Homo sapiens: one gene and its partner. The protein of the gene in region 2 interacts with the protein of the main gene of each other region in a biochemical or structural test. Each region holds a gene or a part of one and is shown on either strand. Other genes may lie near its edges.

The links. Proteins that work in one complex are often made in the same cells at the same time.
Region 1: the proteins of HECTD2 (region 2) and UBE2L3 form a complex in vitro, tested with the Homo sapiens proteins (one large-scale study listed by BioGRID).

What each region holds. Positions count from the first base shown.
Region 1 is NC_000022.11:21,604,707-21,609,213, reverse strand, and holds part of UBE2L3 (ubiquitin-conjugating enzyme E2 L3), read right to left. Parts: intron 1-4,507. UniProt on the Homo sapiens protein: Ubiquitin-conjugating enzyme E2 that specifically acts with HECT-type and RBR family E3 ubiquitin-protein ligases.
Region 2 is NC_000010.11:91,492,796-91,498,309, reverse strand, and holds part of HECTD2 (probable E3 ubiquitin-protein ligase HECTD2), read right to left. Parts: intron 4,891-5,514; coding exon 4,802-4,890; intron 2,106-4,801; coding exon of another isoform or gene 2,097-2,105; coding exon 1,938-2,096; intron 203-1,937; coding exon 128-202; intron 1-127.

The DNA of each region.
Region 1 (4,507 bases), on a different chromosome or scaffold from region 2:
TTTTGTAAGAAACTGCCGGCCGGGCGCGGTGGCTCACGCCTGTAATCCCAGCACTTTGGGAGGCCAAGGCAGGTGGATCACGAGGTCAGGAGATCGAGACCATCCTGGCTAACACAGTGAAACCCCGTCTCTACTAAAAATACAAAAAAAAATTAGCTGGACGTGGTGGTGGGCGCCTGTAGTCCCAGCTACTCAGGAGGCTGAGGCAGGAGAATGGTGTGAACCTGGGAAGCGGAGCTTGCAGTGAGTGGAGATTGCGCCACTGCAGTCTGGCCTGGACGAAAGAGCGAGACTGAGTCTCAAAAAAAAAACAAAACAAAACTGCCAAACTGGGCCAGGAGCAGTGACTCATGTCTGTAATCTGAGCACTGTGGGAGGCCAGGGAGGGAGGATCACTTGAGGCCGGGAGTTCAAGACCAGTTTGTGAAACATAACAAGACCCCATCTCTACAAAAAAAAAAAAAAAAAAAAATTAAATATATTAGCCTGGGCCAGGCTCAGTGGCTCACACCTGTAATCCCAGCACTTTGGGAGGCTAAGCTGGGTAGATCACTTGAGGTCAGGAGTTCAAGACCAGCCTGGCCAACGTGGTAAAACCCTGTCTCTACTAAAAATACAAAAAAATTAGCAGAGCGTAGTGGTGCACGCCTGTAGTCCAGCTACTTGGGAGGCTGAGGTAGGAGAATTGCTTAAACCCGGGAGGCAGAGATTGCAGTGAACTGAGGTTGCGCCACTACACTCCAGCCTGGGTGACAGAGCAAGATTCCATCTCAAAAAATAATAACAAAATAAATATATTGGCCTGGCATGGTGGCATGTGCCTGTAGTCTCAGCTACTTCAGAGGCTAAGAAGGGTGGACTTCTTAGGCCCAGGAGTTTGAGAATGCAATGAGCTGTGATCACGCTTCTGCACTCCATTTTGGGCAAGAGAGAGACTCAATTTCTTTGTTAAAAAGATTTTATGAATAAATAAATGAAAGAAACCGCCTAACTTGTCTTCCAAGGTGGCTGCACCATTTTGCATTCCCACCAGGAAAGAGCGAGAGTTCCTGTTGCTCTACGTCCTCAGCAGCATTTGGCAGTGTTCTGGATTTTGGTCATTCTAAGAGATGCACGGTGTTATTTATTGTTGTTTTCTTATTATAGAGTTTTAAGTGTTCTTTGTCCTTTAGACAGTCCTTTATCATATTATGTTTTTGCAAATATCTCTTGATCTTTTCTGAAGATACAAGTAGAGTTGTACCAGAGGTAAGTTACAACCCAACCAGAATACACTGTGAGTACTAGAAGTCCAAATAACTGCCTTGATGCCAAGTCCTGGCCAGCTCAATCTTCCCAGGGTAGAAACAGTAGTCAGCTCAATGGCTGGACCCTGGGGACCTGAGCTGGTCACTCAACAGGTGATCACCAGGCAGGGCCAGCACCATGCCCTAGCCCCTTGCCCCTAGAACCACCCGAAAACCACCTTTGGGGCCTGGACACTCTGATGGCCCCAGGAGCCTGAGAGATGACTCAGCAAAGAGTCTTTTGGCCTCTCCCCAACCCTACCTATCTCCAGAGCTGGGGAAGCCCTTCCCATTGTACTCCCTTTTCCCTCACCCAGGTCTGCCATGGCACTTGCCATGGCACACCCAACCCAAAGAAATCCAAGCTTCACAGAGAGCCCAAGAACAATCTTTTTTTTTTTTTTTTTTTTTTTAAGACGGAGTCTCGCTCTGTCGCCCAGGCTGGAGTGCAGTGGCGCGATCTCAGCTCACTGCAACCTCTGCCTCCCTGGTTCATGCAATTCTCCCACCTCAGCCTCCTAAGTAGCTGGGATTACAGGTACCCGCTACCCTGCCCGACTAATTTTTTTTTTTTTGTATTTTTAGTAGAGATGGGGTTTCACCATGTTGGCCAGCCTGGTCTTGAACTCCTGACCTCAGGTGAACTGCCGGCCTCGGCCTCCCAAAGTGTTGGGATTACAGGAGTGAACTACTGCACCTGGCCCCAGGAACAATCTTGACAGCCCTACACCCCAGCCCCATATCTTCAAGCCGTGGCCTAAGTACGCACTCCAGTAAACAGAGCTCCTCTGCTGGGGAGCAAGGCTGGCGTGCGCCAGTTCTCCACATTCTCCTACATCCAAGCCCTGCCCTGGGAGGGGAGGCATGGAGCAAGGGCCTTAAAGGATGGATAAGATGACATAAGGCTGAGGAGTGGAAGAGGCCTCCCAGGCAGAGAGGACTAAAGACTAGATGGCAGGGACTTGGAAGGAATAGCATAGAGCAAGACAGGAGGCTGCGGGCAGGCAGTGTGGCCCCAGGGCTACTGAAGCCACGCGTCCAGGTCTGAATCACCACCGAGCAGCTGAAACCACTGTCAGCATATTCATCTGTGGGGAGTCACCCAGGCTGGAGTGCAGAGGTGCAATCACGGTTCACTGCAGCCTTGACTTCCCGGGCTCTAGCAATCCTCCCACCTCAGCCTCCCAAGTAGCTGGGACTACAGGCATATGCCACCACACTCAGCTATTTTTTTATTTCTTATAGTGATGGCGTCTCACTATGTTGTCCAGGCTGGCCTCAAACTCCTGAGTTCAAGTGATCCTCCCAAAGTGCTGGAGTGCTGGGATTATAGGAGTGATGCACCATACCCAGCCAGCTTTTAGTTTTCAAGAGGAGAATTAAATGGTGGTGGTGGTGGGGGGAAGTAAGTAAACATCATTGTCATTTACACTGCTTGAGCCATGTAAAAATAGCTTTCCCTCACTGGGTGTGGTGGCACACTGGGAGGCTGAGCCAGGAGAATCACTTGAACCTGGGAGGCAGAGGTTGCAGTGAGCCAAGATTGTGCCACTGCACTCCAGCCTGGGCAACAGAGTAAGACACACACACACACACCACACACACACACACATACCACACACACGCGCGCGCGCACACTTTCCTGCATGACTTTTGGTTGGTGAAATCTGCTAAAGGTCTTCACTGATTGTCCAGGACTGACCAACCTCCCCTGTTCCCCACTGTGGGCCAGGTCCTGTCCGAGGAGCTGGGGTGAAGCATGAATGAGGCCATCTGGCCCCAAGTTAGCAGGTCTAGCCTCAGACTTTGCCTCTTCCTAGCTTAAAGAGTCTGAGAATGTTCCTGTACATCTGTAAAATGGGAGTAGCAACAGCCTGTACCCAGAGTTTATGATGAGAGATAAGGACTATAAAGTCCTACATGCCTGACACATGGGCAAAGCTCAAGAGAAGCAGATTTGGCTGGGTGCAGTGGCTCATGCCCGTAATCCCAACACTTTGGGAGGCTAAGGCAGGAGGATCACAAGAGCCCAGGAGGCTGAGGCTGCAGTGAGCCATGATCACACCTCTACACTCTAGCCTGGGTGACAGAATGAGAACCTGTCTCAAAAAAGCCAAAAACAGACTGGGCGCAGTGGCTCATGCCTGTAATCCCAACACTTTGGGAGGCTGAAATGTGCAGATCACTTGAGGCCAGGAGTTTGAGACAAGCCTGGCCAACATGGTGAAACCCCGTTTCTACTAAAAATACAAAAATTAGCCAGGCGTGGTGGCACATGCCTGTAATCCCAGCTACTTGGGAGGCTGAGGCAGGAGAATCACTTGAACCTGGGAGACAGAGGTTGTGGTGAGCTGAGATTGTGCCATTGCACTCCAGCCTGGGCAACAAAAGTGAAAATCCATCTCAAAAAGAAAAAGAAAAAGAAAAAAAAGAAACCCTATCTATACTAAAAAAAGGCCGAGGCAGGTGGATCACGAGATCAGGAGATCGAGACCATCCTGGCTAACACGGTGAAACTCTGTCTCTACTAAAAATACAAAAAATTAGCTGGGCGTGGTGGCACGCACCTGTAATCACATCTACTCAGGAGGCTGAGGCATGAGAACTGGTTGAACCCAGGAGGCACCGGCTGCAGTGAGCCAAGATCACACCGCTGCAGTGAGCCAAGACTGCACCACTGCACTCCTGCCTAGGCGATAGAGCAAGGTGTTCTCTCAAAAAAACAAAACAAAACAAAAACAAGTCCTTTTGTAAAGACAGGATCTCACTTTGTTGCTAACAATTTTTTTAAATTAGCTGTGCGTGCTGCTGGTGCACACCTGTAGTCCCAGCCACTCAGGAGGCTGAGGTAGGAGGACTGCTTGAGGCTATAGTTTTAAGTTGTTAGTTGTTAAGGCTGTAGTGAGCCATGATCACGCCACTGCCTTCCAGCCTGGACAAGACAGTGAGATCCTGCCTCTTTTTTCTTCCAAAAAGAGGAAGGAAAAAAAAGAAGCAGTTCTGTTACTACATGAGGCAGGCCAGGCCTCTCACCACCCAGGGAACTTGGCCAAACTCATCTGAACTTCTCTGGGCCTCTTTCCTAGTCTGGGGATCTGTGGATGGTCAAAGGAGTGGCTCAGGTGTGCATAAGTCACACAAACTATGTGCCTGTCCCAGAGATTTTTGGTGAAAGAGGCATGCAAAAATTAAAACATAAGATATACCTTCCGGGTAAAGGC
Region 2 (5,514 bases):
AGACAGAGGATTGTATGTATTGGTTAATCCTTGTTCATCTTTTCTAACAGTGGGTATTTAATAACAAATTGCACTGTTCATATATGAAATATATGATTAACAGATAACTACTTGCCCTTAATAGTACCTGAAATGTTGAATAGAAATCTTCTTCAACATTGCCTTCATGTGATAAGAGTTCACTTAATCCATGGGCCAACTCCTATAAAAAGAAATCTGTTAATGATTTTTTCAATAGAATAGCATTAGCTAGGATAATGAAGTGGCTTTTCTATAGCTCATGCATATGTATATAAAGATCATATTTGACATGTATTTTCCAGGGCACAAAATGGTTAATGATTTCTACCATCCAGAGGCTAAGAAAAAAATCATTATAGGTCATAGATGGGGAAACTATCCAGTTCAAACTACAGGGGCATAACTCTGGGGTCTACTCTTAAGCAGCAAGCTAAGCATACCTCTAATGTAGTGTCTGTCATAATTCACTGCTATCTGCCACATTACTGTTTATGAATTTGTAGTATTTCTCACTTTCAATTTATATTCCTATGAAAATCTGCTAATGTTTTTGGATTCATATTTTAAACATAAAACACACAGTTCATTCATGTGCATTCATGAATATACAGTTCATACATGCACAGTGCCCTCCCCTCCCAAGAAAAAGTTAAGTATACTGAAAGAAACATTTTCTGGTTAGCCGGGCACGGTGGCTCATGCCTGTAATCCCAGCACTCTGGGAGGCCGAGGTGGGCAGATCACAAGGTCAGGAGTTCAAGACCAGCCTGGCCAACATGGTGAAACCCTGTCTCTACTAAAAATCCAAAAAAAAAAAAAAAAAAAAAAAAAATAGCCAGGTGTGGTGGCTCACACCTGTAATCCCAGCTATTCGGGAGGCTGAGGCAGGAGAATTGCTCGGACCTGGGAGGTGGAGGTTGCAGTGAGCTGAGATTGTTCCACTGCATTCTAGCCTGGACAACAGAGCAAGACTGTCTTGGGCAGAAAAAAAAAAAAAAAAAGAAACATTTTCTGGCTGGGCTCAGTGGCTCATGCCTGTAATCCCAGCACTTTGGGAGGCTGAGGCAGGCGGATCACTTGAGGCCATGAGTTCGAGACCAGCCTGGCCAACATGGCAAAACCCCGTCTCTGCTAAAAAAAAAAAAAAAAAAAAAAAAAAAAATTTGCCGGGCACGGTGGCACATGCCTAAAATCCCAGATACTCAGGAGGCTGAGGCACGAGAATCACTTGAACCCAGGAGGCGGAGGTTGCAGTGAGCCAAGGTGGAGCCACTGCACTCCAGCCTGGGTGACAGAGTGAGATTCTGTCTCAAAAAAAAAAAAGAAAGATTTTCTTACATTATATTATAATTGAAATTATCCATAAATAAAGATTTAAAAATAGAAAAATTGATCCAATATTTCAAAATTTTCAATTTAATTTTTATGAAAAAATTAAAGTTTTATTTTAAATTATTAGAAAAAGGTAAATAATAGCATGATTAGAATGATTTTCTATATTTTACATAATAAATGTTCTATTCCTTTAAAACCACAAATTTTCATACAAATCTAGGCTGGCACAGATTTGATATAATTGTCATCATTTAAAAATTATTAATAAAAACTATCCCATTGTTCACATAAAGAAACTAAATTGAAGGGTTAAATAACTTGTCCAAATTCACAGAGCTAGTAAGTGACAGAGCCTGGATTCGAATTACTGCCTCTCTATCTTGTAAAAGCTTAGGAGCACTGCAAAGTGGGTGACATGTGTCTCTAAGGAAAGAAAAAGCTAGATGAAAAAAGGAGATGAGTTATAAAGGTAGAAGGAAACCATATTTAAAAGTAAGAATAGCATTAGGAGGAGAGACTGTGCAGGTAGAAAAAAGATGATTTCGCATTAAAGGACAAGATATTAATAACTTTATACTTACAGGCATAATTTGACATAAGTCGTCCACGGTAACATTGCAGATGCCTACTGGTATATTTTGATCACTAGGAATGATGGGAGGGCTCAATAATTTCTTGTAACAGCAGGGAGGGAAACGAATATCCAAGGTGATGCTGTTATAAACAGCTAGTCCCATAAGCTATGCATACTAAATGTTAAGCATTAACATAAAATCCATGACAACAAATGAGTTCTGAATTATGCATCAGTCTATTTTTTGCATACTTCTTTCAGATTTAACACTGACTTTCTAATTAGTATCACATATTTCCTTTCCCCTCTTTCATTTATTTCCCCTTTATTTTACATAATATAATTCCTTGATTACAAAAAGTCATGTAAAAAGGAGTGGTTTAGTTGATAGTATTCAATGATTTCCCTAGAAAAGTTTATCTAAGATCACAACAGGCAGCAACTTAAGACTTGCCTGTAATTATTTTACAGAAAACATTTTCTAAATTTAAACAAAGATGCTGGCAATTTTATAAGCAGCAGCAATGGTTTATTCAGTAGATCTCACTGTAGAATACTGATTTTGGAGATAGCCATTTTATTTATTTTAAAATTAAAAACAGACTATGTGTGAAGAACAGAGCTAAACTGAATAAACATATGGATATAAACATGCTATTGATAAGCTAATAGGATAGGTAATTTCCAACAGTAAAACTTGAAAGACTTATGTTACTTGGAGTTTCAGTGTCAAAGTTAAAAAGCTACAGATGTTACAAATTTTGCTCAGGATTATTTATTAGTCATATGGTGGAATGTAACTTATCCATTTATGGAAAGAGAGGTTTTAGATCAAATTTCATAGTATTTCAACAGTCAATTATTATATAAAGTTATTAAGGAAGTAATTCATTTTATAGGATCATAAGGAAATCTAAACATATGAGCTGGGTAAATTACTGAAAATAACTTTTAAAAATTGGAAGACCACCAAAATTTCAATTTGCTAAGGTGTAATGAAGTCTGATAATAAGGCCTTATACTTCAAAATAATTGTATTAGAAACACAATACTGTCAGAACTACTAGAACAACACATCTTTGGTCCTGAAATTTTAAAACTGGAGATATATATGAAACCAACTATATTTTCTCAATGTTCATACCTGTTCTTTCTCAAATTTCAGTTCCCAACTCCTTACCTGACCACAATCCACTCTCATCTCACATTTCTCCTATATAGTATTATGCTTTTTACAGCATCAATTTAGCTTTCTATAGGTTTTATATCTGTGTGTGTGATAAACACACATAATAATGAGAGTAGCAATTATAATTTTTAGATTTAATTGTTTAACTTGAAATATAGAATATCTAAACATGCTTAATATGCTCTTTTGGGTAATGACTAAATAGAAACTAATATCTATTGCAAAAAAAACAATGAGCAATTTCATGATTTTATGTATAGTATCACTTAAAAATGTAACTAAGCTATAATATTTTAGTGTAAATATTAGAGTCAAAATATCATCCAAATCTAAATTGTGATATATGAATATAAAGCATGACAAACATATATGTATGAACATATAAATAGCTCATAGTATAGTGACAAGCATCAATGATTAGGCCCTTCAATGAAGATGAAACATTCAACAAATGATTACTGCAGATACTAGAATATAAACAGGAGTCTCAGAATTGTTAAGCGTTATTCATTTTGTGGAATTTAGCACTTTGGACCTTTAGACACAACAATATATACAAAATTTCAAGTTGAGTTTACTATCTTAATGTGTAGTTTGTTCCCTACTACACTTTCTTTTATTAATCTGGTCTCTCAGTTTCCATATATATGTCTCATAATTTATTCCAACAGATGTAACAAAGACAGACATTCAAAGATGGCTCTTCATTCATTTTCTGATGGTATTTTCCATAACTTTCAGTGCGCTTGCTGCTGCTCTCTACCAAGCCCAGCACAATTTAGCCTTTTTTATTCTCACCATTCTCTCAGCTTATAATGTCCCACCACTCTCACCAGCCATATATTAATCAAATGTAATTGTTCCATTTTTTAAATCTCTATCCTCTCTGGGAAAAATACATTGTATATTTTCCTTCTCAGAACTCCTTAGTACTTACTGCCATATGGTCATTTGACTCTGAGAACAGATTAAGAATTCCCCCCCACCCCTTTTATACTTTCTTATCTCCAGTGCTTATTTATTTACTCTTCCCTCCTTTCTTCCACAAACAATTACATTTCTTGGAATCTAAAAAGCTAATGTAGAAGGCATCTTGTCCAATCTCCTACCCAATGCAGAAATGCCCTCTACAATATACCTGATAGGAATCATAGGATTGCAGATGGACTTATAAAATTTTTAAAAATACTATAAAATAATACTATATGCTTTAAATATTCCCATTCCATTCAATTTTTATGGATGCTTCCTTTATGTTTCAGGATTTGGAGGCATATTAAAGAGCTAGATTTAATTCCCCCAATTTCAATTCAGTAAACTGAGGGAAATGAGCACAAAGTGAAAGAACAGAAAAAAAATACTTCATTATAAATGGGAAATACTTTGATTTTTTTTAAAAAATGCCTTAAATTAGTGATAACTTCAATTATATGTGAAATAGGAAAGAACCATTTTTATTTTGAGATAAGGTTTTCAGAAAAAAATCAAACTCTCATTTCTTTCAATTAAGTCTACTGACATATATTACACATAATGAAGATTACTGAAAATCTAATAGTACATTTGACAATAACATTTAATTTGGATAAAATGGCTAAAGAAAACAGTTTTCTAAAATACAGATAAAATCTTTAAAAATCTCTAATCTATTAGCACCTCCTAGTGGAAAGTTTAAAGGATACAATTCCAACCAATCGGAATTCAGAATAGTTATCACATTTAAAGCTGCTAAACCAATGGCAGTGTGAATCCTTGTGATATGTAAACATGCCTAAAAAAACACACGAATAATGTTATTATTAACATGATTGACTTAAAAAAATCAAAGTGGTAAACATGTACATGACATCTCATCTATTAGAAGCTAATCAATTCAACAATAATTCTGTTACAAACCATCTTTCAAGTTAAAAATTTTGGATTATTTATGGGACTATATATTTGCAAATCTCAGCAAATATAAATATATATATTAAATATATATGGAGAACATTTTATTTTCCTGAACCAAGGGTAGAAACAGGGTAAAAAGATAGAAACTAAATGAATCAGATAACTTTATAAAAAGTATAGTTTCATAGATTATAAATTATGATCAAAATTAATTTTGAGGATATCTGGAGACTTCAATTTATCACTGTCATCCCTATTTCCCATCACATACACATATAGAAAAGAAAACTAAAGAATAAGGAAAACACTGAAAATTCTCCTTTGAAAAGTTTAACAGATAGTAAGGATTATACAGGTAGTTTCTGTAAAATAAAAAATTTCAAAGGCTTATTTTTTCTTAAAAAATTAATTCATGAATTCTTATTTATTAAAATGACCCATTAATGAAAGAGGCTTTAAATGTTACTATAGAGCAAACTATAGTTTTGTGTTTTAATTTCAA